4 linked regions of the Homo sapiens genome follow. The protein of the gene in region 2 interacts with the protein of the main gene of each other region in a biochemical or structural test. Each region holds a gene or a part of one and is shown on either strand. Other genes may lie near its edges.

Region 1 (8,370 bases), about 76 Mb from region 2:
ACAATGTGGATAAATTTTGAGGACATTATGCTAAGTGAAAAAAGTTAATCCCAAAAGGTTATATACCATGTGATTCAATCTGTATAGTATTTTTGAAGTGACAAAATTTTAGAAACAGTGGACAGATCAGTAGTTACCAGGAGTCAGGAAGGGGGGTGGTTATTATTATAAAGAGGTAGCATGAAGGAGATCTTGGTGGTGATCTAATAGTTCTGTATCTTGATTGTGGTGGCGGTTACACAAATCTACGCACGTAATAAAATGGCATAGAACCATACACACTTTATACCAATGTCAATTTCCTACTTTTGATATTGTTCTATAATTAGGTAAGATGCATCCATTGGGGGAAAATGGGTTGAACACAAGACCTCTCTAACTTTGTAACCTCCCATGAATCTTTATTTCAAAATAAAACATTAAAAAATATACTGATTTAGCTGGAATAAGAATATCAAGTCTCTATCACCTGAAATCTCAGGTCCCAGGTCCAGTTCCATTAAAAACTCTCAAAGGAACCATGTCCATCAATGCTTCACTGCCCCAGATGGAAAACTGGGATATTGTGGGTGTCTTAGTGACTTTTTCTCTGCTCTCAATTTTTTCCTGTTTCTCTTCCCACTACATCAAAGCAGTTTCTTTACAAGTTACAAGTTGGAGAAAACCAGTAAGGTTTAAAAAAAAAGGCAGGAGCAAGCAAAAAGGAAGTGCTTTACAAGCAGGCAAAGGATGACTGGCAACCTATGAGAGAAAGAAAGGAAATTACCACAAAAATAAGCAGAAGTGTATTCAAAGAGGCTGTAAAGTCAACTGCGGAGTCCTAAAAAACTAAGATGGAACCTGGTAATTAACAAGTCAGAGGTTTCTGGCTATCCCATGTTACCTCAACAAATCAATTTCCCTTGGCAATCCAAACCAGTGGACCAGAAGAGTCAGCAAATACCATAGTTCACTTCTGCAGGACAAAGACGACAAATGAGGCAGCCACTACTCAGGAAGCCCCATTCCGGAAACACCGCCAGCAACCACCACGTTGAAACAAAAAGGAATTGAGCTGACACCACATGGCTGCCTAAGCACCTCCAAAAAAGTAGGCCTACAATGTGACTCTCTGTTCAAAAGAAATACATTAATAATCAGGGAACCATGTAACTTCCTGTCCTCAGCCTAAATAAGTAGAAGGTATCCAGGTTACGGGAGAAAGTTCTATTTCAACGTATCCTTGGTCATTGTCTCGAATATTCAGAGGATCTAGTTGATAGCCAAGGAGACCTAAATTCTACTCCTAGCTCTGCCACCAACTTGGTAGTTCAGTAACCCTGAACAGGTCATTTTCCATCAGCAAAACAGGACTAGCCAATCATTTCAAGGCTTTGGGTTAGCGTGTGCTAAATGAAACTTTATTAGGTCCAGAGGGAGAAAAGTTAAGCAGCTCCTCCAATCCCGCCCCCAGCTAGCTTCCTCAAGCCAGTTTCCCTAGAGAGAGAGGAAATAAAGCCCAAGACTGCAATTACAGGAAGGTTATCAGCATAATGTCCCACTCCTTGTCTGTTAGTTGGTCCATGCATCTGGAAGAATCAGCGTCGAACACAGGGGAGATGCAAGGAACTAATTAAAACCTAAAAGCTAGTTGCATGCCAATGTCCACCTGTCCTGTTTTTTACAGGGTCTATCCCCTTTTTTTAGGATTGTATGAGGGCCAGAAAGGGCACTCCTCTAGTACTAACATGGCTGTGACTCCTACTTTGTCCAGATTACAAAGGCCTATGTCATTTGGGGAAATGTGGAAACCAGGTATTTTTCATGGACATAAATTATTGGGTTCTTCTATCTCCACAGCAGGGCAGCGGTTACCTGCAAAAATATTGACCAAAGTGAAATTAGAGAGAAGAGGAGAGCTACATGTCCTTTTAGGGTACCCATACAGTTCCCTAACTCAAACGTGTCCTCATATGTTTAAAGTTAGAGTAAAGGGAGATCTCCTACTGACTTACGTGTCTGTTAATATCCAACACAAGCCCTCATTTGAACCAGCCCAAATTGGAAAAGGGGCTAGATTACACCAGCCAAATAAATACCTACCCATCAATCAACCACTTCCCAAAAAGGTCAAGGTTGCAAAATGCTATCAACAGAAACCTTTATGACCCCTCAAAAACACCACTCTTGGATCCTGTTAAGGTATATGAACAGTCAAGTCCATCAGTTACATACCGACTCATCCTCCTGCACCTTGCTCCTGGTATGCACAAATATATCACACGTGACAAAAAGGATAAATGTAAAAGCTGCCCACTCTACCAACAATTCTGGCAGATAAGAGAGAAACCGTGTTGGCAAGTGACTAGAGATCCACATGCGCAGAGTAAGAGACCCAAAGTGCACGAGGAAACTTCCCCCAATTTTAAAATTCTACTTTTCTAGCCACACGTGGGGATGAGATTGGAGGCCAGCAAGTATGAGCAGCCACACCCTGCTCTACCATTACCTAGTATGTCACAATCCTGATGCAAATCCTGTGCCCAAGAGTCCAACGATACCGCGCTGCAGGGCAGCAGACGCCTGTTACGTAAGCTCTGCAGGGCCTCCTCCAGTTCGCCCCGCCCTACCCTCCCACCCCAATTCTTTAGTGGCGGGGGGCGGGGGGGTCTACTCCTGAAGTTAAATCAACATCCTCTTGGAAAAATATCCTTTTGTGCAGGAACCTGTGAGATGTGGGCCGTTTCTCATTTGGCTGCGACGGTCTAGGAGCGTGGGGGAAGGGAAAGTAAAATGACCTTTCAAGGTCCCTTCCTTGAAGCCTAGAGATTTGCAGGATAAGCATTAAGTCCCATCTCGCCGACTGGGAGCTGGAGGCAACGGAACTGCATTTCACCAATAGGAAAAAGGACAAAATGGGTCCCAGCGGCAATCTCAGCCCTTCCTCAGTGGGATCCATCCCCGAAGGGTGACTTCGGGTGCTTTCTGGGCTGGGGAAAATGCGGCTAGAAACCACCAAACCCGTGAGCAGCCTCGCCCTCCAAGCCTAGGACCCCTGGGGCCCAGCCAAAAGCTAAAAGAACTTAGAGCAGACGAGAGAACAAGTCGGCTCCGGCCAAAGAGGTTTGCGACAGAGCACAGAGAGCACGCGGGCAAACGTGCAGAATTACCTCATAACGACCCGCTTCCCTTTAACGTCCAGCTTGTCCAGCGTCAGCTTGTTAGAAAGCGACATTTTGGAAATACAGCTGGGGAGAGAGGTCGGTGATTCGGTCAACGAGGGAGCCGACTGCCGACGTGCGCTCCGGAGGCTTGCAGAATGCGGAACACCGCGCGGGCAGGAACAGGGCCCACACTACCGCCCCACACCCCGCCTCCCGCACCGCCCCTTCCCGGCCGCTGCTCTCGGCGCGCCCTGCTGAGCAGCCGCTATTGGCCACAGCCCATCGCGGTCGGCGCGCTGCCATTGCTCCCTGGCGCTGTCCGTCTGCGAGGGTACTAGTGAGACGTGCGGCTTCCGTTTGTCACGTCCGGCACGCCGCGAACCGCAAGGAACCTTCCCGACTTAGGGGCGGAGCAGGAAGCGTCGCCGGGGGGCCCACAAGGGTAGCGGCGAAGATCCGGGTGACGCTGCGAACGGACGTGAAGAATGTGCGAGACCCAGGGTCGGCGCCGCTGCGTTTCCCGGAACCACGCCCAGAGCAGCCGCGTCCCTGCGCAAACCCAGGGCTGCCTTGGAAAAGGCGCAACCCCAACCCCGTGGAATTCGAGGCTGCCCTACCAGGATCAATGCAAATGCCACCTCCTTTTGGAAAATCCTGGTTTCCTAGCTCCCTTCATGGAATTCTGCTTCTTAAGGCTTACTTAGTAATAGAGACCTCTCAGAAGTTGGAAGAGGCCCAGGTCCACTCTGGCCCCCACCTTTTTTAAAATAAAAAATGCAATGTAATTTTTCTGGTTATGGCATGATTGATGCTAATGGCAAACACGTGGCATTTTTCATATATTAACCAACGCTCACAAAACGCAGTAGTGACTACTGTTATCCTCATTAGGCAAATGAAATAACTGATGCACAGAGAAGTTTAGTGGGCCAGGCGCGGTGGCTCACGCCTTTAATCCCGGCACTTTGGGAGGCCAAGGCCGGCAGATTGCTTGAGCCCAGTGGTTCGAGACCAGCCTGAGCAACATAGCAAAACCCCATCTCTACTAAAAATACAAAAAATTAGCTAGACGTGGTGGCGGGCACCTGTAGTCCTGTTACCCGTGGAGGGTGTCCAAGTTCTTAGCGTCTTGAACTAAGAACTGGACGAAATGCACAAAGCAAAGAAAGAATGAAGCAATAAAAGCAGAGATGTATTGAAAACGAAAGTGTAACCGCCCAATGGGTTCACCTTGTCCGCTGCCTAGACAGAGCTGATTTATGAAGACGGGAATTGCAATGGCGAAAGAATAATTCACGCTGAGCGCTGTGCGGGAGACCAGAGTTTCATTATCACTCAAATCAGTCTCCCTGAGCATTCTGGAATCAGAGTTTTTAAGGATAATTTGGCAGGTATGGGTTCGGAAAGTGGGGAGTGCTAGTTGGTCGGGATGAAGATTAAATCACGGGGTCGAAGTGAGTTCTTGCGAGTTCTTCCTGGGTGGGATCGTGGAGCTAGTTGAGCCAGATTATCAGTCTGGGTGGTGTCCTCTGCTGCATGAGAATGCAGGGTCTGCAAAATATCTCAAGCACTGATCTTAGGATTTGCAATGGTGATGTTATTCCCAGAAGCAATTTGGGGAGGTTCAGATTCTTGCAGCCAGAGGCTGCATGGCCCCTAAACTGTAATTTATAATCTTGTAGCTAATTTGTTACACCTACAAAGAAAGGCAGACTGGTCCCAGCAAGAAGGGGAAAGGGCTGTTATCAATTTTGTCTCAGAGTTTACACTATAAATTCTTTCCCAAGGCTAGTTTGGCCTATACCCAGGAATGAACAAAGACATTTTAGAAGTTAGAAGGAAGATAGGGTAGGTTAGGTCTGATCTCTTTCACTGTCATAATTTCCTCAGTTATGATTTTTGCAAAGGCGGTTTCAAAAGTATACTCCACAAGGTGAGAGCAGGCCTGAGCAAGCAGCTCAAGAGCTTGGTTACAGAATTTTCTGGGGTCTAAATACCCGGTAGAGGTTTCCCATTAGCCACTTGGTGTATACCCCATGCAAATGAAGTAGTGGTCCATGGTCAGTCTGATTGGTTGCAGAAAGTGACCAATCAGAGGCTGAAGTGAAGTTACAAAGTTACACTCCTATACAAATGAAAACTTGGCCTGCCACCAGCCTGATTGGTTGCAGGAAGGGACCAATCAGAGGTACTTTCAATTTCTCATTCAACTGACTTTTATTCACAGTGCTGGGAAAATATATATACTGACTGAGGAGATATTCTAGTTAACCAAGTGTGATGATGATATATCACTCAGATTCCCTCTTTCAGAACTGAGGCACTTATTATTAGCTGCTGGGAGTATTAGTTGCTGACAGCTCACAGCTGAGTTTCTCCCCAGAAACTGCCCTCTGTTGAAGGAAGCTGCCTTGCCTAAGGTTATACCGACTTCCCAGGGGCATCCATTAGTGATTGCTTAATGCCGTTCCAAAGGCCTGGCTTCTTTGCTTCATTTCAGGACGTCTCTAAAGGACCAGCTCTGCTTCAGAACTGTCTGTGGGGTTGGCTGAAGCCTCTATTGAGACTTCTCCCTTTTCTATCCAAATCTGATTTCCTTACTCCTTTACAGGACTTGTTCCCAGAAGCAACCCCCAGTGATCCACCTGCACACAAATCTCAATCTCAGAGCCATTTCCCAATTCTAAGATGGTGCCCATGATCTCTGCCCTCTAGTGTTCACATCTTTCTATAATTTCCTCCCCTTGAATGTGAGCTGGAACTATGACTGGCTTCTAACCAATAGAATGTGGCAGAAGTGATGAGATATAACTCCCATGATTAGATTATGATGTATATAGGAGATTCCATCTTTCTAGTTTGCTCTAGAGAGACACCCTTGTTGGCTTTTTTTTTTTTTTTTTTTTTTTGAGACGGAGTCTCACTCTGTTGCCCAGGCTGGAGTGCAGGGACACAATCTCGGCTCACTGCAACCTCCGCCTCCCGGGTTCAAGCAGTTCTCATGCCTCAGACTCCTGAGTAGCTGGGATTACAGGTGCATGCCACCACGCCCAGCTAATTTTTGTATTTTTAGTAGAGACGTAGTTTCACCCTGTTGGCCAGGCTGGTCTCGAACTCCTGACCTCAAATGATCCGCCCGATTCGGCCTCCCAAATTGCTAGGATTACAGGTGTGAGCCACCACACCCAGCCCAATGTTATTTCTTTAAACCAATGAGAATTCTTGACAAACAACTTTGCAATCACCCCCACTCCTGATTCATCCTTTTTTCTTAAAAAATTTGAACCTCCCCATTGTTCTCCAGAGTACTCTTCAAGGCAACCTGGAAGTGTGTCCCAGGCTGCAGTTCTCAACCATGGCCCAAATGACCTTTCCATATTTTGCCTACACTTCTTCCTTTTAGGTCGACATGATCTATGGAGAAAAATCAGTTGAAGATATCTGTAATGTTAAATTTGTTAACCATAAAATGCAACTGGGAGACAGATTGCAGGCAATTTTATGAAAAAACTTAATAAGACCATATTGAAAAAAAATACATTTTTCAGAAAAATACCAGTAACATGGTATTAGAGACAGATATAGCTAAGAAACTGATCAAAATATGTGTATGCCCCAAAAAAATCTGCTTGTGGTTATTTTTTTTGGAGGGAGCGGGGAGGGTTGTTTGTTTGCTTGTTCTAAAGACAGGACCTCGCTCTGTCTCCCAGGCTGGAGTGCAGTCCAGCAATCAGCTCACTGCAATCAGGCTCAACCTCTGGGGTTCAAGGGATCCTCCTGCCTCAGTCTCCCAAGTAGCTAGGACTACAGGCATGAGCCACCACGCCCAGCCTCCTTAAACTCTTTAAAGTATCCCAGTTTAGGTGATAAATCATATGGTCTCTCTAAGGCTATAGGATCTTTCTTTTTGTGGCTTTTTCCTATCCTTTAGTTTAGTTATCTATTACCCAGATCCCCTTTTATATATAAGTGTAGTCTTCTGTAAATATAAAAGACCCACTTAAATTGTCTATTCTTTATCACATTCAAGGGAGATATCAAAGGAAGGGAGATAGGAAGTTCAGAGGTATAAACGGGGTCGGGCTTTTGTTCCCTGAGAGGCTTCTTTTTGCCAATTAATTCATTAACAAGCCCCAATAGTTGCCTCAGAAATAGATTGATACCTCCAGGGACATGTGAGTAAAGCAGTGAGAAAAGAAAAAAAAACGCACACATACAGCAACATATACAGAAAAAGAGAAAGAGCATGCAAGAGCTCTAAAAATAGTAAATACAATTCTAATCAAAGAGAATCCCACAAATATGAAGGTAAGAGGTAGAGCCTATATGAATCCTAGACTCCTCTGCACCAATCCTCTATTGTGAATTCCTGGAGGAAAGTTTATGCCATTATTTACGTTACAATGCCCCAATACCTTCTACATTGGGGTCTTTACCATCAGGTCACCATTGTAACAGAGACCATTTTCCCTTTCTTTACTAATAGAACTCCTAAATTTTAATCAAACACATGGCTCTCCAACAAGAGACTACATTTCTCCATCTTCCTTGTGGCTTGGAGTGACCATGTGAGCAAGTTCTGGGCAACTGATATAAGCCATTTCCACATAGTGACCCTAAAAAGGAAAGTTCATGCTGTCTTTAGGCCCTTTTCTGCCTTCTGCTGACTGGGAGATGGCAGAAGCTGGGGCAGCCACCTTGGCCTCAGTGATGGTAGTGCTTCCTCACCAGCCCTGGACCACTCACCTCTATACTGTTAACATGACAGAGAAATCAACTTCTATCTTGTTTAAACTACTTGTGTACAATCTTTGTTACAGTACCAGTCCCCTCCCTAATAAAACTATGGTGAGCTAACCTTGCAAAATGAAAAAAGCACACATTGAGTCACTGGAACATGAGTAGAAAGACCAATGGGACAGAATAGAAAGTCTATAAATAGAACCAAATGCATGTAGAAAATTAGTACCGAGTCAAATCAGTGGGGTAATAATGGACTTTTATTTTAAATCAATGGTCTTGAGACAACTGCATAGCTATATAGAAAAGATAAAGTTTGATCTCTTCTTCACACATATGGCAGGCAAACTCTGAGTGACACAAAGATCTAATAGATTTACCCTTTGAGCCAGCAGTTCCATTTCTGTGAATCTAATGTAAGGATAGATCTCTGGACTTTATGTATTTCTGTATGTACATTTTCTCATTTGTCATAGCAAAGGACAGG
Region 2 (6,873 bases):
CCCAGCCCATTAGAAAAATCGAGATCTACTTACTGAAAGTTGAGGGTGTTGGAATAGAGGTGCAGGGCGGCCCGGTTACTGCAGGGGAACAAGGCACTGCTGAGCTGCACGGATTTGGCCAGGGAGGGGTAGCACGTCCAGGTCTTGCCCCTCCTCCTGGTCCCTCCTTCCCCCCAATCCCACTTCCTGGATCTTCACCAAAAGCTGAGGTACCCCAGGACCCCCGTCAAGGCAGTATCTCTCCCCCTCAATCCCCCTTCCCTCAGCCCGGCTTCCACCTCTTCCTGACATGCAGGGAGACATATTTGGCATTGAAGTTCTCTATCATGGCTCGAGAGGCCTGGTCCATCAGTTTCTGAGCCAGACCGAGGCGCCGGTGGGAACGCTTCACAGCCTGGTGGGAGAAGAGCAGAGATGGGGTGAGGGACTGGGACCTTGAGGGCTGCCCCAACTAACCCCCACTTCCACCCCCACCAGAGAGCCTGGGTGGACCTTACATACCAATGAGGTGATATGTCCATGGGGCACATCATCTGGGTCCTCTTCCCTGGAGAGGGAGAAAGGAGAGGCTGCAAAGGAGCTCAGTGTAGGCACAGCCACCTCCAGCCCCCCTGCCATTTGTAGAGTGGACATGCACTACAGCCCCCTAAGACCCCAGCTGGGGGAGAGCCGGGAGCCTCTTGGATCAGAGCAGCCGATCCTGCCACCCTCTGCTGCCTGAAAACCCCAAGCCTGCCGGGTGTGGGGCACACGCCTATAGTTCCAGCTACTTGGCAGGCCGGGGCAAGAGGACTGCTTGAGCCCAGGAGTTCGAGACCAGCCTGGACAACACTTTTTTTTGTCTCTACAAAAAAAAAATCAAAAAATTAGCTGGATGTGGTGGCGCATGCCTGTGGTCCCAGCTACTTGGGAGGCAGACATGAGAGGATCACTTGAGCCTGGGAGGTTGAGGCTGCAGTGAGCCATGATCATGCCACTGCACTCCAGCCTGGGCAACAGAGCGAGACCCTGTCTCAAAAAATAAAAAAAGAAATGAGCTGTCAACCCACGCAAAGACAAGGCAGAAGCTTAAATGTGTATTACTAAGTGAAAAAAAGCCAGCCTGAAAAAGCTGTATATAGTATGATTCCAACTCTGTGACATCCTGGAAAAGGCAAAACCATGCAAACAGTAAAAAATCAGTGGTTGCCACGGGTTAAGGAGAGGGAGGGATGAATGCGTGGAACACAGTGAAACTATCCTGCGATAATATGAAGGTGGACACATGTCATTTGGTCAAAACCATGGGGCTTACAACACAAAGAGAAGTGCAGTAATGTAAACTATGGGTTTAGTTAATAATAATATATCGGCCAGGCGCAGTGGCTCACGCCTGTAATCCTAGCACTTTGGGAGACAGAGGTGGGTGGAAACACCTGAGGTCAGGAATTCGAGACCAGCCTGGCCAACGTAGTGAAACCCCATTGCTACTGAAATATACAAAAATTAGCCAGGTGTGGTGGCATGTGCCTGTAATCCCAGCTACTAAGGAGGCTGAGGCAGGAGAATCGCTTGAACCCAGGGGGTGGAGGTTGCAGTGAGCCAAGATCACGCGACTGCACTCCAGCCTGGGCGACAGGGCAAGACTCCGTCTCAAATAATAATAGTAATAATAATAATAGTAACATATCACATTCATTTATCACTTGTCACAAGTGGACCACACAAATCCAACATGCTACTAACAGAGGAAGCTGGCAGGGAGGGGATGCTGAGGGGTGCTATAAGAACTCCATGTCCTTTCTGTTCAATTTTTCTATAAACTTTCAACTGTACTGAAAAGAAGAAGCCTATTCATTTTTTTTAAAGCCCACAGAGGCATCCACCAGACACGTGTAGCTTCTGTCTTCCTCCTTGGTGACTCACATTTTGGCCAGGACATACCCCACAATCTTCCCATTCTCGTCCTCAGCAATGTAAGAGAGCTGGTGACAGGAAAACAGAGTGAGAAAACTTCTTGTCGGAGCTAGAAGAGCCCTTTAGAGGGACACAAACTGGACGAGTGGCGAGTTGTGTGATGGCTCATGACCTCCGGGCTGAGTGGCTTGGTCTCCCCCTCGCCACACTGTGCCCTGCCCATACCCAGAAAGAAGACGCAAAGTGGGGATCCTGCCCCTATTCTCTGCTCCCTTCGGGCGCCTTCTTTTCCTTTGCCCCTGTCTGCCAGCTGAAAACACCCAGGACGCCACCGACCATACAGCCCCCTGGGCTCTGACAGACTTGTCCACTCCCTCCAAGATGGCCAGATGGGATTTTCCTCGGCCTGCTTTCCCCCATGCCCAAATTCAGAAGCTGCCCACCTGGGGCCAGGAAAGGCCATGGTAGAAGTAGTATTTCATCTGGTAGTTCTCGGGCAGGCAGAGGAGGTTGCAGTGCTGCATGTTCATTAGGTCCTCTGGCTGCAGGGAAGGAGGGCAGTGGAACGCGCTCAGTCTAAGGCGGCGGTGACCACGGGTGAGAAGCCTGCTCCCCGTCGGTCTGCTCGGCCCCGCTCCCTCGGGGCTGGGCAGGCACTGTGACGATCTGACTTTGCACAACGCCCGGAGCACAGGAACAGGAGTGGGCGCCCCGGAGGTCCCCGGAGCCCACCCAACGGAGGCCCGACATCACGCAAACAGGAGGGAATCGCAGCCCCGGCCCCGCGCCCCGGCCTCTTCGGCGGGCTGGGCCAGCCCCATAGGTCCAGCGGCCGCAGGCACACTCAGGGCCACCGGGCCGGGCTCGGCCGGGGCCCTCGGGAGCATGCGCGGCAGCCACCCGGCCCGGCGCCCACGCGGCGCGGACAGCCTCCCGCCCCGGGCGCTCACCCTCGCATTGCGGATGTTCATAACGGCGGCGGGGCTCGCGGGTCCCAGCGGATCGTGAAGGCGCAGTCAGCTGCCGCCGCGCTCCGAAGCGACGCCGGGACGGCCGGGGCTGGGACCGGAGCTGGGCTCGCTGGGCGACGGCGGAAGGGGCGGTGCGCGCCGGGCCGGCCACCGGCCGGAAGTGCACGGCCGCCGGGCCCGTCCTCCCGGCCGCTTGGCCAATGCGCGGGACAGGCCAGCGCACGGGGCGGGCCAATGCGCGGAGCCGGTCAGCGCGGGGCGGGCCTGGGGGCGGGGCGGGCGCTGCCCCGGAGCTGGAGCCGGCCCCTCCCTCGGCGCGACAGCCCCCCTCCCGCGAGCCCACAGACGCGCGCACAGCCGCAGGTGGAGCGGACTCAGCCTTTATTCCGCGCCTCGGCAGGCGGGGGTGGGGGCGGGGGAGGGGGCGGGGGCGGGGCGGCTCAGCAGGGCGCCCAGCATCTCCTCGCACATGGCTAGGCACCGCGGCACGTGGAAGCAGCCTGCGGGTAGAGGCGGGCAGGTAGTGAGGGCCGGGGGCAGCCGAGAGGCGCAACCCCTGCGGCCCCGCCCTCTCCCCCACTCACCTTTGAAAGGACCTCCCTTGATGGAGAGGGCCACCTTGCCCTCTCGGCTCAGGTAGCCAAACCATTCCCCGTACTCGGGATCGCGAAACTGGAATAACAGAGACAGTGACAGCTAGCGCCTGCAGGACCCGCCCAGATGCCACTGCATCGCTACCAGGGGTCAGAGCCTGGGTTGACCCCAGGTGACGTGGCTCCAGAACCAGCGATCTTAACCGCGACACTGCGTCCTCCACAAAGATGAAAGCAGGGGTGGGCGCAGCAGGCAGGCTACAACTATATAACCGACTGGGCAAGGGGATGAGACACTGCTAGATGGAATGAAAGAACTCTGCCCTGGGGTGTAGAAACGTTGTCTATCGGGCCGGGAGCTGTGGCTTGCGCCTGTAATCCCAGCACTTTCGGAGGCCGAGGCGGGCGGATCACCTGAGGTCAGGAGTTCAAGATCAGCCTGGACAACATGGTGAAACCTCATCTCTACTAAAAATACAAAATTAGCCGGACGTGGTGGCACGCACTTGTAATCCCAGCAGTATACTCGGGAGGCTGAGGCGGGAGAATAGCTTGAACACAGGAGGCGGAGGTTGCAGTGAGCTGAGATCACGCCATTGCGCTCCAGCCTGGGTGACAGAGCGAGACTCCATCTCAAACAAACAAACAAACGAACAAACAAACAAACAAAAAAGTTCTCTATTGTGATTGTAGTCGTGGTTACGTTGATTCAAAGAAACAAAGAACCCGGCCGGGTGCAAAGGCTCACACCTGTAATCCCAGCACTTTGGGAGGCCGAGGCGGGCGGATCACAAGGTCAGGAGATCGAGACCATCCTGGCTAACACAGTGAAATCCCGTCTCTACTAAAATACAAAAAATTAGCCGGGAGTGGTGGCGGGCACCTGTAGTCCCAGCTACTCGGGAGGCTGAGGCAGGAGAATGGCGTGAACCCGGGAGGCGGAGCTTGCAGTGAGCCAAGATCGCGCCACTGCACTCCAGCCTGGGCAACAGAGCCAGACTCCGTCTCAAAAAAAAAAAAAAAAAAAGGAAAAGAAAAGAAACAAAGAACCCTGATGGAGGCGACGACCTGTCATGAAACTCTTAAGAAGTGACTCCCTTGGAGCTCCCATTCCCGGCTTCACAGGCCTGTCTTCCAGTAGATGCACAATCTCATCTGACTCCTGTCCTGGCTCACCATTGGTCCCAAACTCATCTCCTCCTCCCTCTGCCCCTGCCCAGTGCCCATTCCACTCTCTTTCCTTCTCTCTCCACTAGCATTCCATGGGGCACCTGTCTCAGGGAGGCTTGTCAGTTCAGCCCCTTCTCAAAAGGATCATGGACTCAATTACATTGAAGTCCACTATGAAAATGTCTCTTTAAATGGTGGCCCATAAGAGTTGGTGTATTCTTCTTTGTAGGAAGTAAAACTAGTCCTGGGCTGGGCACAGTGGCTCACGCCTATAATCCCAGCACTTTGAGAGGCCGAGGCGGGAGGATCACTTGAGGCCAGGAGTTTAAGACCAGGCTGGGAAACATAGTGAGACCCCATCTATACAAAAAAAAAATTAAAGAATTAGCTGGGCGTGATGGCACACAGCTGTAGTCCCAGCTACCTGGGTGGCTGAGGTGGAAGGATCGCTTGAGCCCAGGAGGTTGAGGCTGCACTGAGCCATGATTGTGCCACTGCACTCAGCCTGGGCGATAGAGACCCTGTCTCAAAAATAAATAAATAAATAAATAAATAAATAAATAAATAAATAAATAAAAACTAGTTCTGTGTGTATTCATTCTGTCTTTTGAGTTACATTGTTCAAGTCCTTACTTATTTTTTGACTGCTTGACATGACACAGGAAGGTAAAGAAGAATTTCCTTCAATGTCTGGATTTTTGCCTTCTGTATTCTGTTATGTTGGTTGATGCATAATGACTTACCTGTTTTTTTGTTTGTTGGTTAGTTTTTTGGTTTTTGTTTTTTTAAGACGGAGTTTCGCTCTTGTCACCCAGACTGGATGGAGTGCAGTGGCGTGATCCCAGCTCACTGCAACCTTCACCTCCCAGGTTCCAGTGATTCTCCTGCTTCAGCCTCCTGAGTAGCTGGGATTACAGGCACCCGCCACCAAGCCCGGCTAATTTATTTATTTATTTTTTTTATTTTTTATTTTTTTTAATGGAGTTTTGCTCCTGTTGCCCAGGCTGGAGTGCTTCCCGGGTTCAAGTGATTCTCCTGCCTCAGTCTCCCCAGTAGTTGGGATTACAGGCACCCGCCACCACACCCGGCTAATTTTTTGTATTTTTAATAGAGATGGGGGTTTCACCATGTCAGCCAGGCTGTTCTCGAACTCCTGACCTCAAGTGATCCACCTGCCTCGGCCTTTCAAAGTGCTGGAATGGCAGGCGTGAGCCACCGCGACCAGCCCAATTTTTGTATTTTTAGTAGAGACGGGGTTTCGCCATGTTGACCAGGCTGGTCCAGAACTCCTGACCTCAGGTGATCCACCCGCCTCAGTCTCCCAAAGTGCTGAGATTACAGGCATGAGCCACCATGCCCAGCCGATTTACCTGTTGATTATAACTTTTGTAATTGTTTAATGTCATCTATATCTTATTAAAATGTATTCCTTCAATTTCATTTTTGAGTTAGAACTGGTGGCCCCTAACACACACTCTATGAATGCATTAAATATTAAGATATAGCTGCAGGTCTAACAACCCTGCTGCTTTGGAAGTAGTGACGAATATATGTGATACTTGCAGATGTCTCTCTAACTGCAATGCAATGTAAACACATCTGGATTTCTATCGGTGACAAAGCCAGGCACTTCTATTACCAATGTGGTTCATTGCCTCCACTCATAATGGCAGCAAATGCTAGTTTCAGTTAGAGGTTAGTACAAATAAAGATGTGATTCTCCGCCCCCGGTTTCGAAGCTCACAGACCCCAGAATAAGATCCCCTGCTATAGTCCTCGCAGTACCAGGGTTCACCAGTGGAGTCGGAGTCGTGGCTTTAGAAACGCATGATGAATCTTCATTCATTCACCACCCAGGCCTTGCCACCACTGGGTGCCATGCCCTTTCCACTGGGTGCCATGCCCTTTCCACTGGGTGCCATGCCCTTTCCTGTGTTCAGCAGCTCGAGTTGCCTCCTGGGCAGCAGTCAAGACAGCTTATCACTCTGCTCCTAGCACTTGGGCTTCAGGGAGCCCCTGGCTTGGTTTTCTTCCTGCGTCACCACTGATTCTTGTCTCCTTTGCTGGGCCCCCATTTCCCTTTTTGCCTCATAGATCTCAGCAGCATCTGTACTGTTTTTTTTTTTTTGTTTTTTTTTTTTTTGAGACCAAGTCTTGCTCTTGTCCCCCAGGCTGGAGTGCAATGGTGCGATCTCGGCTCACTGCAACCTCTGCCTCCTGGGTTCAAGCGATTCTCCTGCCTC
Region 3 (7,382 bases), on a different chromosome or scaffold from region 2:
TTTAAATAATAAACCATACAGCATTTAAGAATCATTATTATATGATTAACAATGTCATGTTCCAGGTTTAACAATTTCATAGGCCAAAAAAAATTTCTTCTTAAAAACTAGTTTTATAAACGCAGAATATATTCCATGAGTAACTGCTGGTATTTTTTAAGAAAATATATTGTGCAATTGTGGCTACCACGTACTGCTGGCAAAGCATTATTATTTATGTAAAATGTGAAAAAAAAGGTGTAAAAATTTTTCAACTGCCTATGATCATGATGAAAGGTTACTGCCTTCTTACAAAAATTATATTGGCATCTTCTTAAAAATAATTCGAAAAAGGGATAAACTCCCTAGCCAAAAATAAATAAATAAAAAGGTGCATTTTTTAAAATGATGCTACTGCAATGCAATGGTTTAAATACCAAAAAACTGAGAAAATGAGCTGTCTGTGATCCAGCATTAAAGAACATACTAAAAAAGAGCATTAATGTAAATTAAGTAGAAAGGGGATCAAAATTGAACTAACCAAGTTTGTGCAGTATTGTAGCCAGGCTTCTAAAATTAGATGTAGAAAATATAAATAGACTGCTTTAGGTAATGAGCCACCAGTGTCCAAAAAAAGGAATGAAATTAAGAAAAAGCTCAGTTAACTTGATCCAAAGCTCTGAGTAATTCTTCACCCTGCAGTAGGTTTCTGCTGCCTTGTATAGGAGCATTAACTTCACAATCATAACTGGTCAGCTGTGGTAATCCACTTTCATCCATTGATTGCCCCAGCAGTCTACATGCTAAATCTGAAAAACAAAAGAGATACCTAAGTATACATTCATCTAGTCAATGAATATTTATTAAACACCCACAATGTGTTAGGTATCATAGAAAATAAAGCAAAATTCTGGAAGGGTTTTTAGTTTACCTGGCAAAACCACAACTATGTTAAAAAGTAAGTATAATCCAGTGATACTGTTGCTGTGTCAGAAATGTTTACAGGATACAATAAAGGCACAAAGAAATAACAATTTGGAAAAAGGCATAAATATGGTGGGCATCAAAGCTGATGCCTGTAATCCTAGCACAGGCTGAGGCAGGAGGATCACTTGAGGCCAGGAGTTTGAAACCAGCCTAGGCAACATAGTGAGACCCCATCTCTACAAAAAGCAACCGGGTGTGGTGAGGCATGTCTGTAGTGCGAGCTACTCAGGAGGCTGAGGTAGGATGATTGCTTGAGCTTGAGCACAGGAGTTTGAGACTGCAGTGAGCTATGATCATGCCACTGCACTCCAGGCCTGGGCAACAGAGCGAGACCCTGTCTCAAAAAAAAAAAAAAAAAAAAAAGAAGTCATAAAAGTTCACAAATTTCAGCTTCTATCAATATTGACAGCACATGGACATAGAGAAATCAAAGAAAATTACTAAAAATGAAAAGCTCCACCTTGAAATGTTAATCTCTGTATTAAGACCATCACATGAAATACAACTGTACTTTTTTTTTTTTTTTTTTTTGAGGCAGAGTCTCACCCTTGTCGCCCAGGCTGGAGTGCAGTGGTGCCATCTTGGCTCACTGCAACCTCTGCCTTCCGGGTTCAAGCAATTCTCATGCCTCAGCCTCCCAAGTAGCTGGGATTACAGGCGCCCGCCACCACGCCCAGCTAATTTTTGTATTTTTAGTAGAGACGGGGTTTCACCATGGTGGCCAGGCTGGTCTCCAACTCCTGACCTCAGATGATCTGGCTGCCTCGGCCTCCCAAAGTGCTGGGATTACAGGTGTGAGCCACCGCGCCCAGCCACAACTTTACTTTTTAATCTTGCTAAGGAACCAAAGTCATTCTCACTTAGATTAAAGCTCCTAAATAAAAATGTTTCATGTATTTTGTCTTTGTGATGTTCAAGGTCAAAAAGAATAAACTAACCAGAGGGTATTAAAATAATTGTCTTTTGCTCCATTCCATTCTGTTCACTAGATTTGCATCCTTTTACACGTTTCCAAGAAAGTGATGTAGTAGCTGCATGATCGTCTGGCTGCTGTAATAATGTTCCCTATAAACAGTAAAGTTATTTCAAGTTTAGTTTGTTGAATTTTTTTTTTAAACAACCAAAAACCTTGAAATTGGTGTAAATTTAATAACATTATAGGCAGTTTCTTAAATACTACCCTAAATTATTTTGAATTCTTTCTTAAGTTATTTGTCATCCATTATGACCATTCTGTCTATAAATACTTTCCAGTTAATTTAGTTTGAAAATATCAGAATGTATTATACCACCATTGACTTACCCCAAAACATAGCAGTTCTTTTTTAAATATGAGATGGACTCTCACTCTCTTACCCAGGCTGGAGTGCAGTGGCCTGATCTCAGCTCATCGCAACCTCCACCTCCCGGGTTCAAGCTATTCTCCTGCCTCAGCCTCCAGAGTGGCTGGGATTATAGTTGTGCACCAACACGCCTGGCTAATTTTTGTATTTTTAGTAGAGACAGGGTTTCACCAAGTTGGCCAGGCTGGTCTCGAACTCCTGACCTCAAGTGATCCTCATCTTGGCCTCCCAAAGTGCTGGGATTACAGGCGTGAGGCACTGTGCCTGGCCAATAGCAGTTCTTTTAATAAGGCAAAGTAACTTAAAGGGAAGAGAATGAGATTGGTGGTGATATTCAGGGTGGAGTAAGGGGAGAACTTCACTTTTTAACTCAAAATACACTGGAATTGTTTGGAATTTTTATACCAAGAATGTATGTATTAAACATTTGTATTTTTAAAAACCAGTGCATACAGAGTAAAAAAACCCAATGTATAACTTCTGAAAATATAACTTTACTATTTGGAAGAAACGTGGAAACACACACACACACACACACACACACACACACACGAAATAGCACATTAGCTAGAAAAGCAAAACCTACTACTCATACTTACAATTCCTACTGCTTGAAAAAGTGAACCATCATGTTCCATTTTTCGCTTTCTCTGAGCATTCTGCAAAGCTAGTATCTTTGGATTTAGTTCTTCCTCAGGAACTGTAGTTCTGAAAAGAAAAAAATTCTAAATGAAAATATAGCGTTTTTAAAAAAAATATCCAGTGAGCGCTTTTAAAGAAAATACATAATTCTTTAGTTCTCCAATATTAAGGAATATAATATACATAAGATAACTTTCCTGATCACTAAAGTTTATCATCTTAAAAGTAAAAGCTTAATTTTTTTTTTTTTTTTTTGGTGAAACACGGTCTTACTCTGTCAGCCAGGCTGGAGTGCAGAGACGTGATCTCTGCTTACTGCAACCAAGCCCTGCCTCTGGAATCAAGTGATCCTCCCACCTCAGCCTCTCAAGTAGCTGGGATTATGACTAATTTATATATACATATTTTTGTAGAGACAGGATTTCACTATGTTGCTCAGGCTGGTCTCAAACTCCTGAGCGCAAGTGATCTGCCCACCTTGGCCTCCCAAAGTGCTGGGATTACAGGCGTGAGCACCTGGCCGTCAAAGCTTAATTTAACAGGAAATTTTCTACAGTATGCGTATCCCTATTTTATAAAATAGAGCTGAACACAACTAAATTGACACTATTGTAGAGTCAAAACAGTTAAATATTGTCCTTTTATTCCACCTAATATAACAATGCAGTGATATTGTTGGGACTATTGAAATACAAGATCAATCTCACATTCGTATAGCATTTTCAGTTTATAAAACATTTCAAGTTCATTAGTTCATTTTAACCTTACTTAAGTTCCCAAGACAGATAAGGCAGGCATATCATACCCATTTTATAAATTAGAACCCTGAGGCCTATTGGGTAACTTTCTCAAAGTCCTACTGCTCACTAGTTGCAATATGGAAGTACACTCTAGGTCTCCAGATCCCTACCTCCCCTCCCCTGCTCTTCCCACTATGCTATTTTTCACTCAGTATTGATCTGGTTATCAAACATGAACTATGTATATCTAAAATTAATATTAAATTGTGAAGAATTGTTCTAATGAGTAAAGTACATCAGCTTTGTTACATTATTTTGACTTTTCAAGACACCCCACAAACCAAATGCATAATCATAATGGCTCCTTGCTGTTCCAGACAGTTGAGAATGCCAAATAGGTAAGTGATCTTATTTTGCAGTTTTCTTTGGTTTTTAAAAAATTTCTCTAAAACTTCTATTATATAGACAGGGAAGTTTAAAAATTCTTATACAGATATATTGTCTTTATGAAATGTAACTCAGTCTATTATGTAAATATCATTGTAGTAGTAGTAGTACTTAGTAATTACGTTTTTAATGGTTTATCTTAATTTTTGAAATTCCTTTCATAAAAGTTTTCAGTGTACACTACATTGGAACTAATGTTTAAAAACAGTTGCTAGCTGGGCACAGTGGCTCACAACTGTCATCCCAGCACTTTGGGAGGCTGAGGCAGGTGGATCACCTGAGGTCGGGAGTTTGAGACCAGCCTGATCAACCTGGAGAAACACTGTCTCTACTAAAAATACAAAATTAGCTGGGTGTGGTGGTGCATGCCTGTAATCCCAGCTACTCGGGAGGCTGAGGCACGAGATTTGCTTGAACCAGCGAGGCGGCAGTTGCGGTGAGCCAAGATCCGAGATCACGCCATTGCACTCCAGCCTGGGCAACAAGAGCAAAACTCCGTCTCAAAAATAAATTGCTAAAGTGACTTGATGTGTTGTTACACTTTGGCTTTGACAAGTACAAGAGAACAGTTGTTCAGAAAACTGGATATCCCATCCTCTGTAGCTGATAGTAAACTGTAACTTATAAGTGATTGTCATTTTTACTACTGTATTCATGCATCTGTCAGTCCAACAACTTTTTTTTTTTTTTTTTTTTTTGAAACCGAGTTTCACTCTTCTCGCCCAGGCTGGAGTGCAATGGCACGATCTCGGCTCACTGCAGCCTCCACCTCCAGGGTTCAAGCAATTCTCCTGCCTCAACCTCCCAAAGTAGCTGGGATTACAGGCACGTGCCACCACGCCCAGCTAATTTTTGCATTTTTAGTAGACCGGGTTTCACCATGTTGGCCAGGCTGGTCTGAAACTCTTGGCCTCAGGTGATCCACCCGCTTCAGCCTCCCAAAGTGCTGAGATTACAGTGATGAGCCACTGCGCCCTGCCTCAACAACCATTTATTGAGGAAGTACTACACATTAGGTCATGAGCTAAGTATTAGTATCACTAAAATGCCCAAGACACTGTGATTGCCCTCGTGGAGCTCAGAGTCAAAAGTGAGTAAGTGACACAGTAAATAAAGTAATGTAAAGTACTTCTGAGTTCATCTAAAGCCCCAATGTCTTTTCCAAGCTTAGGGAAAAGACCTCTCCCAGCACTCTAGGTCAAGGTGGGAATGTTAGGCAGGGAAAAAAGCTATGTGTTCTGGCTACGACAGTGGTTCTTTCCTATTGCTATTGATATCTGGCTTAGTCTAGACATAGTAGAGAAGGAATCATTTCCCTTTTCCACACACTTATTAGATAAAACTTAATTTCTTCTAGCTATAGCCTCAAACTTAAAATATGTGAAATCCCCTTACAAATTATATACAGAAAGTATAACTTAAAAATTGGGTCATGTCCATATGTTTGTTTGAACTAGCTCCATAGAAGTAACAATTCATGCTTAGATTCCTGTTGTACAGTTTGAAAACCTATGTAGCCTGCAATATATATATAGCTAATGTTCTACAAATACGTAATGAAAAATAAAAGCAACTTTAATACAAGTTAACTATAATAAAATTTTAAAAGAGGGGCCTGTAAATATCTATATTGAATGCTGAAGATGGAAGGCTCAATTTGGAATGTGCAATTGGAAATAACCCTTAAATTGGAAGGGCTTTTCTTCAGATAAGCTTAAAAAAGAGCTCTAAGAAATGGAAGCATCTAAGTAGTGAGGGTAGTTAACTAGTCTGATTTAAACAACTGTAAGAACTTTAAACAAGTTCTGTAAACACATTTACAGTACTGAGCTGGATTTTATTTTAAAGGTGTCAGAAGACCCTCCTCCATTTAGATAGGTAATTTTAGAATTTATAATTATTTTAGAAAAAATAGGAGCGGGCATGGTGGCTCACACCTGTAATCCCAGCTCTTTCGGAGGCTGAGGCAGGCGGATCACCTGAAGTCGGGAGTTTGAGACCAGCCTGACCAACGTGGAGAAACCCTGTCTCTATGAAAAATACCAAAAAAATCAGCCGGGCGTGGTGGTGCATGCCTGTAATCCCAGCTACTCGGGAGGCTGAGGCAGGAGAATCTCTTGCACCCAGGAGGCAGAGGTTGCCGTGAGCTGAGATGGTGCCATGCCATTGCACTCCAGCCTGGGCGACAAAGCGAGACTCTGTCTCAAAAAAAAAAAAAAGAAAGAAAAAGAAAAAATATATGAGGTTAATTTAGAAAGTTTTTTGAGTTCTCAAGAATTTGCGTTAGGGCATATATATCAGAAAGTTTGCTATAAGTTTAAAAATCATGTACTATCACATACATTTATCTCAAAAATAATAAAAGAACTATAACTTGAATGTTACATATAAATACCTTTGACTCAAAGCGACAGATAACACGTTAGGGCTTCTTGGATGAGATTTTTCTGTCTGTTCTATGACTCCTTTTCCTGCTCTGTTTGGTGAGGCTGTCCGACTTTGAGTATCTCTATATGGTGATGATGTGGCACTAGTAGTTTCTTTATGTATGTGGGTAGGAGATGGAGATGCAATCAATATTTTAATGTCTTCCATACGGTCTTTTGTCACTGTTTTTAATTCATCAGTGGTGGCAGTGGTAGTGGTGGCATTAGCAGTAGGTTCTTGTATTTGAGTCTGCTGGAATACTGTAACTGTGCTTTGAGGACTTGCGCTTTCAGGGCTTGCGGAACTGCTTTCTAATGGTGACAACTGATCGAAGGAACGTAACTGGAAGTCATCATCCATTGGGATATAGGGAGCTAACATCTCCAAGTCTAAATCTGTGTCCTTTAAAACAGCAAATACATGAGTTTTTACAATGGCCACACCTTATAAATAAAAAACAAGTGAAACTCAAAGTCACTTCAGACTAAAAATTAATGAAATTTAATATAAAACAAATAAGTTCATATACCTGAGTAGAAAATGGGTTCTTTGCTTCTGTGTCTTCAGCAAAAAGTTTTTCTACCAATTCCAACTTGAATTCATTGACCATATCACTATCCACATAAAAACAATATTCACTGGGACTATTAGGCTGTAAAAAGAAATATGTTTACTATTTCCTGAAGAAGCTTCCATATACTTTGCTAGTTGTCAGAATTTTCAAACTAGATCTCAGAAAAACCAGAAAACACACAACCAAGTCCATCGTGTTTATCAAATTTTATTTAACTAGGCCGGGCTCAGTGGCTCACGCCTG
Region 4 (7,382 bases), on a different chromosome or scaffold from region 2:
TTTTAATTTTCATTTTTAATAATTTTCCCTACCAGAGAGCGTAGGCTTATATATGATTTATCTTTCTATCCTAGAAAGACACTCAATGACTTCTGTGGTAGGCATTCACATCTGTTGGACCAAGTTGAATTACACTTCTTATACTGTAGGATTGAAACCATGGCTAATTTATTAGCAGTGTCCCTTTGAACAAATTACATCTTGGGGGCTCAGCTTTCTCTTCTCCAACCTGGATGATAAAAAATATTGCTAATGAGCATGAGCATGTACAGTGGACCCTTGGACATCATGGGTTTGAATGGTGTGGATCCACTTTTGTGTGAATTTCTTTCTTCCTTTTTTTTGAGACAGGGTCTTGCTCTGATGCCCAGGCTGGGGAACAGCGGTGTGATCATAGCTCATTGCACCCTTGACTGCCTGGGCTCAACTGAGCCTCCCATCTCAGCCTCCTAAATAGCTAAGACCACAGGTGCATGCCACCATGCCTGGCTAATTTTTCTATTTTTTGTATAGATGAGATCTCACTATGTTGCCCAGGCTGGTCTCAAACTCCTGGGCTCAAGCAGTCCTCCCTCCTCAGCCTCCCAAAATGCTGAGATTACAGGCATGTGCCATTGTACCTGGCCAGGATTTTTTTTCAATAAATACACTGGAAAATGCTTTGGAGATTTGCAACAATTAAGACAAACTTGCAGATGAATGTGTTACTTAGAAATATTGAGAAAATTTAGAAAAAATTAGGCATGTCATGAATGGATAAAATATATGTAGATACTAGTCTAGTCTATTATTTACTATCATAAAATACATATAAATCTACTATGAAAAGTTAAAATTGATGAGACTTAAACAAATATAGACCATACATGGGCCTATTTGCAGTTGAGAGAAATGTAAAGGTGAAGTATTAAATCATAATTGTATAAAATTAACTGTAGTCCATACTGTACTACTCTAATAATTTCATAGCCACCTCCTATTATTGTGGTGAACTCAAGTGTTGTGAGCATCCGTTTAAAATGCTCTGTGATACTAATCATCCTCACCATCTCTCCAGTAAATTGCATAGTGCAGTAAAAAGTGATCTCTTGCAGTTTCACATTTAAAAAAAATCATGTTTAGTGCAATACTGTAAACCTTGAATAACATCATGCACCCATACAAAGTGCCACCAGTGATGCTAGCAGTGCTCCCAAAAAGCAAAAAAAAGTCACGACATTTCAAGAAAAAGTTGAATTGCTTAATGTGTACTGAAGATTTCAGACTGATGATTCATCTTGTAAACAAATGATATAAACTGATGGTATCAATAAATACAGCATAGTATTATAAATGTATTTTATCTTCCTTATGATTTTCTTAATAACATTTTCTTTTCTCCAGCTTACTTTATCATACGAATACAGTAAATAATACATAAAACATAGATGTTAATGGACTTTTTATGTCATTAAGGCTTCCAGTCAACAGTAGGCTACTAGTAGTTAAATTTTGGGGGAGTCAAAAAATTTTCAGCTGCATGGGGGTTGACACCCTAAATCTCCATGTTGTTCAAGGGTCAACTGTACTTTGTTCCACTCATTAAACTTTGACAACATCAAGATTAACAATATCAACTATAAAGTGTGTACTATTATTAGCTCACTTTTCCAAATGAGAAAAGCAGTCAGAAACGATCTGGGGAATTTGTCTGAAGTCTTAGTACTAATAAATGGAGAAACCAGAGTCTGAATGCTAGCAACCTGGAGTCAGAGTCCACACTATTCATCACTTACTATTCAATTTGCTGAGATCAAATGAGTTTATACACATAATGTGCTTGGAATAATGTTTTGCAAAACGAAGGGCTCATTAGTTTATCTTGCAATTATTGTTACCGTATGAGAACTTGGCTTGCTTCTGGGATGCTTAATAGTTTTTAAGTTGCATTTCTGAAGATTCATTTCTATGAGTTTAATAACTGTCTTTTCTTTAACAGATGCACATTTACTATGATTTTGTAACTGGCTGGCTTTAATCTCTTGGTTGATCTCTTTACTGCTTGGGTTATGTTTGCTGTATATGCAGCATGAAACCTAGGGCTGCTACCAGCATAAATCTTTAAATTCCAGAAAATGAATGATTCCCATCACCACTGAGAAAAATGCATCAGCAACCAGAGGTGAAGACAACGATTCTATGGAGGCTTTTCTTTTGTCCTTCCCTGACTGGTAATGCTGTCTATCCTTCTACAGCCTGGGAAGAAGAGGAGGAGGCTGCCAGGCAGTGTGGGGAAACCAAACTGTTTTTCTCTCAACCAGTATCACTCAATGATTACCAGCTTTGTACCTATTGTGGTGCTGTACTTCCCAATTTTTATTGAGCTGAGTCTTCTGTATTCAGTTCATATCGTGAATTCTCAGGACATTAGAATTATCCATGTTCAAATAGAAATTTGCAAAGTTAAAACAAACATATTTCCAGATTAATCATAACTTTGAATACCTGGCAATGGTTCTCTGTCATCTGTTTGGATAATTGACACTTGTCTTTTAAAATCAGTATTTACATAGTAAGATAGGGCATTGATTTTGATTGTTTTGAACTACAGACTCACATTTTTGACCTCAGGTTTCTCAATTGGAAAATGGATAATCTCACCAATTTTACTTGGTTCTTAAGCCCTCCCTTTCCAGCTACAAATGGTATCAGAAATAATGACACTTCAGTGCAAAGGAAAGTTACAGGATCAGAGCAATGTGAAATGTTCCTGTAGATTGAATTATTATGTTGCCAGACTAAATGCTCTGAAAAGCTCAAATGAGAAAAATAATTCATTTTAAAATGATGGCATTCCTGAGCGCAAACATTCTAGGATCTCCTGTACAAGAATGCACTGAGGGGCCTTCACCTGGGGATATTTGAAGTAGAGCATGAGGTTACTCTGTATATCCTTAAAGGATCTGGGAGGAGCTGAAACAGACTTATGTTCAATGAGCATCTGTGATTTCCACCTAACTTACTTCTGAAGCATATGAAAATTCCACCCCATGCAATATTTGACACAGAAAGTACTGCCCCTTTATTATATAAAAGAATTAGCTTCTTTTAAAAAAAAAAAAAAGTCTGGAATCTCCTTGTAGATGTCTTCCTGGTATTTGGAGAATGCCCCTATGATCACCCTACTTATATGCTGTAGGACTTTATTTATGATGGCTGTCCCATTCCAATTTTTATATTTCTATTTAGAAAATTCTAAATTTGCTGGAGTGCCCAACATATGTTACATGTTTGTCCTTGTGAGAAGGCCAGGATGACCACCAAAGAGCCAGTAAAAGTTTAGAAGGAGCTGTTCAGCCCATCTTCTGAACGCTCCGGGAATCTCTTCAACTTCAGACCATGCCAGGTGACTTTTAGAACCCAGTTCATACTTCCAGCCTGTTCTGATCCTAGGTTTGAACAGTTCTCTTACTATCCTTCAGGTGAGGCAATCAGGTCACAGAGCTGGTGAATGGCAAAACCCTGTTAGAACTCAAAGTCTTAGCTCTCAAATGCTGTGTTTTCTCACTGATAGAAGAATGTGAGGACTGCTAAAGAATCAGCCTCACTGTATTCCAACGTGTGCCTGTCATCTACCACTGACAACTTTATTTTTATTTATATATTTACTTATTAGAGATGGGATCTTGCTCTGTTGCCCAGGCTGGAGTGCGAGTGCAGTGGCACGATCATAGCTCACTGCAGCCTGGAACTCCTGGGCTCAAGGAATTCTCCTGCCTCAGCCTCTGGAGTAGCTGGGACTGCATGCCTAACTTACCACTGATAACTTTAAATCAAAGTTTGAACATTGCTAAGGTATTTCCTTAGCAACAGTTCCCATAAACCCTCTGATATAGGCTTGCTTCCAATTCAGTAAGTTTTCTGAAAAAATTATGTTTTTAACCTTAGAAGGTATATCTATATATGGTTATTTTTATATATGGTTTTTATATATATATAATAACCATATACATATAATATATATATTATATATTATATAATATATATAGTTATTTATTTATATATATAAGGTTATTATTTATATACATAAATACCCTTAAGCAGAAAACGAGATTTTTAAATAAAGTAATTTCTTGACAATCCATGAGGATGTATTGAAAATCTCATTGTTAAGGACTCCCAAAACTTCACTATTGATCCAAGTGATGAGAAAAGATCATGATTGATAGAGCTGGGTAAAGGTTGCTGTTGGGGTCATGAGAGATTATGAGAGAAACATCATAAGACTCTCCTTACCCCTACAGTGTGATTGCAATTACATCTTAGATATGCAGGAAACTTCCACATACTGTCCCGTTATCAGAAATGAGAACTTCAATGAGAAGGTGGAAATCTATTAATAATTGTGCAGTTCATGCGACATGATCATTTGGGGCAATGCTGGGTTGAAGTGGGCTCTATTTAAATCATGTGTGGATTTTGATTCTGGAAAAAAAAGGGGCTATTTAAAGTGCTGACTGGAAACTAGTTATTCAAAGGCAATTAGACCCTTCTCCCACTTAAATGATTCTGCACTCAAGGAATGATACAAATTGAAATAGTCATTATCCATCCACCTGCCTGGCTTCTGATTAAACCTTGTAGCTGCATATGTCTCTGTCTTTATAGTACACTGGGCGTAGAAGAAAAACCTTCTCCCTAAAGATGAGAACTAGAAATTCAAAGTGGCAGAATCAAGATGCCACTTGCCTTTCCAGGAACACATTTTCTTGCTTAAAGTTCAACTCTGTCAATAAGAGTTTGACCCTTCTATTAGTAAAGACGCTCCTTCTGGAACCCTAATTGGCTTTGATGCATTATCTAGCTGCATCTGCAAGTAAAGTGGGTCCATTAATAGAAAATGAATACTTCCTGTTTTTTTCAAATTGTTTTTTCTGTTGGAGGGCAGCTCAGCAATGATTTTTTAGTTCATTATTCTGGGCCGTAATGGGTTAGGTCAGCTTGTGTTGGCTCTAGTGAGTTTTGAAACTCTCATTATTATTCTAATATCTATTGATTTACACAGCTTTAAAAGCTTTATCATATGAAAGCCTTCTTAACAACGATAAGCATGCCATTACTTGCAAAAGTAAGCAAAGCACAAGTATTTTGCCAACCAACACTAAAGTTTGCGTAGTTTTCATACTGATCAGGCAAAATATGCAATCAGATATTTTTAACATGGAGTATGTACAACACAACAGGACAAAGTGTTCCCTTTATGCCTACTTACTCCTTTTTCAAGTCATTGGAGGTTGCTTGCATACCAAGAAACTACTATTTAGATTTATGATTCTAAAAATCTTAAAAGTATCCTTCTCTGCTCACCAAAATGGAATGAATTATTATAAGAAAATTTAGGATATCAGACAAAGAACTTCAACGTCTCCCAGGGAATAAACACACAACATAAGTTACCCACATTGAGTAGATTATAGATGTACAATTATCGTTAAATCTATAATGTCTCTTTTTCTCCTTTTTAGCATTTGGACATAAGAGTTTGTAATCAATATTCAAGACCCTACTGATTGAGGAAAGGGCATGAAACATGGAAATATAAATTATGTCGGAGTTCTGTGTTGTAGAATATCAGGTTTTGGTGCCCTAGGTCTCTTTATAGGAACGTTCCAGTGTTTCTTTCCAATCTCTTCTAATTTTAAGCCCCCAAACCCACCCCTTCCCAGTCTACTCCCTCCAGTCTTTCTTATGGCCCACGTTGACATGGTGGATCTTAGAGCCAAGTCTGGTGTCCTTGTGTAAACTCAATTTCATCATATAAAATTCCCTGTTTTTAGAACTGGGGATGTGAACTGTTAAACTGGAAATGGAACCTGGATATTTTTGAATTCTCATTAAAGCTTTGGCATTTATAAAAGCAAAGCTCATAATCATGTCCTGGCTATACTGACTATTCTTTCTCCCATTTTCTGATTCTATCCCTTCACCACCTCCACTTGACAAACTATTAATACTAACCATCCTTCAAGATTCAATTCAAAGTCAACTTATTCTGAGATTTTCCCGAACTTTGCCTCTTGAGATCTTTCCTTATCTAACCTTGTTTAGCATTTTATCTGTGGATCTCTTAGTGAATTATATTTTGAGTGATAGAAAATTCATCTGGAGGCTCGTAGCCTCCCATAGGCCGTGAATTTCTTGGCAGTAGGGGTGGTGTCTTTCTCATGTGTACATGGCCCACAGTGCCTAGCACAATGCCTGGCTGACAGGAGCCTTTGAGAATATTTGCTGGATTAAATTTGACCCTCTTATTTTCACTCCAATTCTGTTGCTGAGTCCTATATTTTTCTCTTGGAAAATGAAGAACATTTCCAGCTATCAGTGCGCCTGAATCCAAGGTCGTGTTTTGAGGATCTTGTTATGCCCTTCACACTTCCTGTTGGTCATTTCAGAAGTGACTCGCAGTAGGGACTTGCTGACTGCCACGTGCTCACCTTCTCCATGATCCTGTCGATCTGGCGATTCTGTGTATCGATCTCATTGCCCATATCCAGGGCCATGTGACGGAGGTTCCCGATGATGCCGCTCACCTGCTCTAGGTTTTCATCCATTTCATTTTCTCGGGCATCATTTGTTACCCTGGGATCCAAAGAGCAAGTTTTAGAAGACAGAGGGTGGAAAACATATTGAATACCAAGGACCCAAAGCATAGTGGAAATCTGTCGTCCTCTGGGCATCAACTTTATCTATCTTTAATCTCCATCCAGTACAAAAACACATTTTAGCTTTCATACATTTAAAAAAAATGTTTAAAATTGCTTTTTGAACCCTTGAATTTCTATTCTTAAAGAAGGTATATTAAATAGATTAATTTATCTACTTTCTCACTCCTTCCATTATGTTGTTTCCCCTTCATATGTTTATTTCAATTTTTATTGTTTAAGGATGAAAACATTTTCTTTGAAAGGACTTTAGGTCAGAGCACGAAGATGGAATTAGAAACGATATTCTTCTTTCTAAGAATATTCTTAATATTTCTAAGACTCAAATTAAGTCTCAAAATTTCTAAGACTCAAATTAAGAATACAATAAAAAGCTTATTGTGCTAAGTCAGAGTCTCTGTGCTCATCTCTTTTCACACTTGGGATTGACACCAATGGGAAGAGTAATGATAATTACAGTTTGCCCCTTAACCCTGCTTGCTCCCAGGAACTCCAAGGAGAGCTACTTGTTCAAGATGATTTTTATTTACTCATATGTTAATAACATGGGTTTTTTAGTGGCATGGTGCATAGGTGATTTCAGAGTCAAAAACTGTGAAACTGTGACAAAAGAGTATTGTTTCAGGTTGAGTGGAATGGGAATGGGAGGAAGGAGCTGGCTCACAAAACACATTACATTTT

What was found.
Region 1: the proteins of NAA10 (region 2) and PGK1 form a complex in vitro, tested with the Homo sapiens proteins (one study listed by BioGRID).
Region 3: the proteins of NAA10 (region 2) and HIF1A form a complex in vitro, tested with the Homo sapiens proteins (4 studies listed by BioGRID and IntAct, with this or other methods).
Region 4: of the proteins of NAA10 (region 2) and SNAP25, one has a biochemical effect on the other in vitro, tested with the Homo sapiens proteins (one study listed by BioGRID).

The regions. Positions count from the first base shown.
Region 1 is NC_000023.11:78,099,185-78,107,554, reverse strand, and holds the start of PGK1 (phosphoglycerate kinase 1), read right to left. Parts: upstream 3,308-8,370; 5' UTR 3,215-3,307; coding exon 3,150-3,214; intron 1-3,149. UniProt on the Homo sapiens protein: Catalyzes one of the two ATP producing reactions in the glycolytic pathway via the reversible conversion of 1,3-diphosphoglycerate to 3-phosphoglycerate.
Region 2 is NC_000023.11:153,932,038-153,938,910, forward strand, and holds the start of NAA10 (N-alpha-acetyltransferase 10), read right to left. Parts: upstream 3,001-6,873; 5' UTR 2,868-3,000; coding exon 2,847-2,867; intron 2,439-2,846; coding exon 2,340-2,438; intron 1,965-2,339; coding exon 1,906-1,964; intron 548-1,905; coding exon 502-547; intron 395-501; coding exon 279-394; intron 79-278; coding exon 34-78; intron 1-33. Other genes in the region: RENBP (N-acylglucosamine 2-epimerase), read right to left, coding at 3,249-3,367, 3,452-3,539. UniProt on the Homo sapiens protein: Catalytic subunit of N-terminal acetyltransferase complexes which display alpha (N-terminal) acetyltransferase activity. Acetylates amino termini that are devoid of initiator methionine.
Region 3 is NC_000014.9:61,740,340-61,747,721, reverse strand, and holds part of HIF1A (hypoxia-inducible factor 1-alpha), read right to left. Parts: intron 7,218-7,382; coding exon 7,095-7,217; intron 6,968-7,094; coding exon 6,534-6,967; intron 3,018-6,533; coding exon 2,909-3,017; intron 2,032-2,908; coding exon 1,905-2,031; intron 789-1,904; coding exon 637-788; 3' UTR 1-636.
Region 4 is NC_000020.11:10,298,504-10,305,885, reverse strand, and holds part of SNAP25 (synaptosomal-associated protein 25), read right to left. Parts: intron 6,619-7,382; coding exon 6,474-6,618; intron 1-6,473.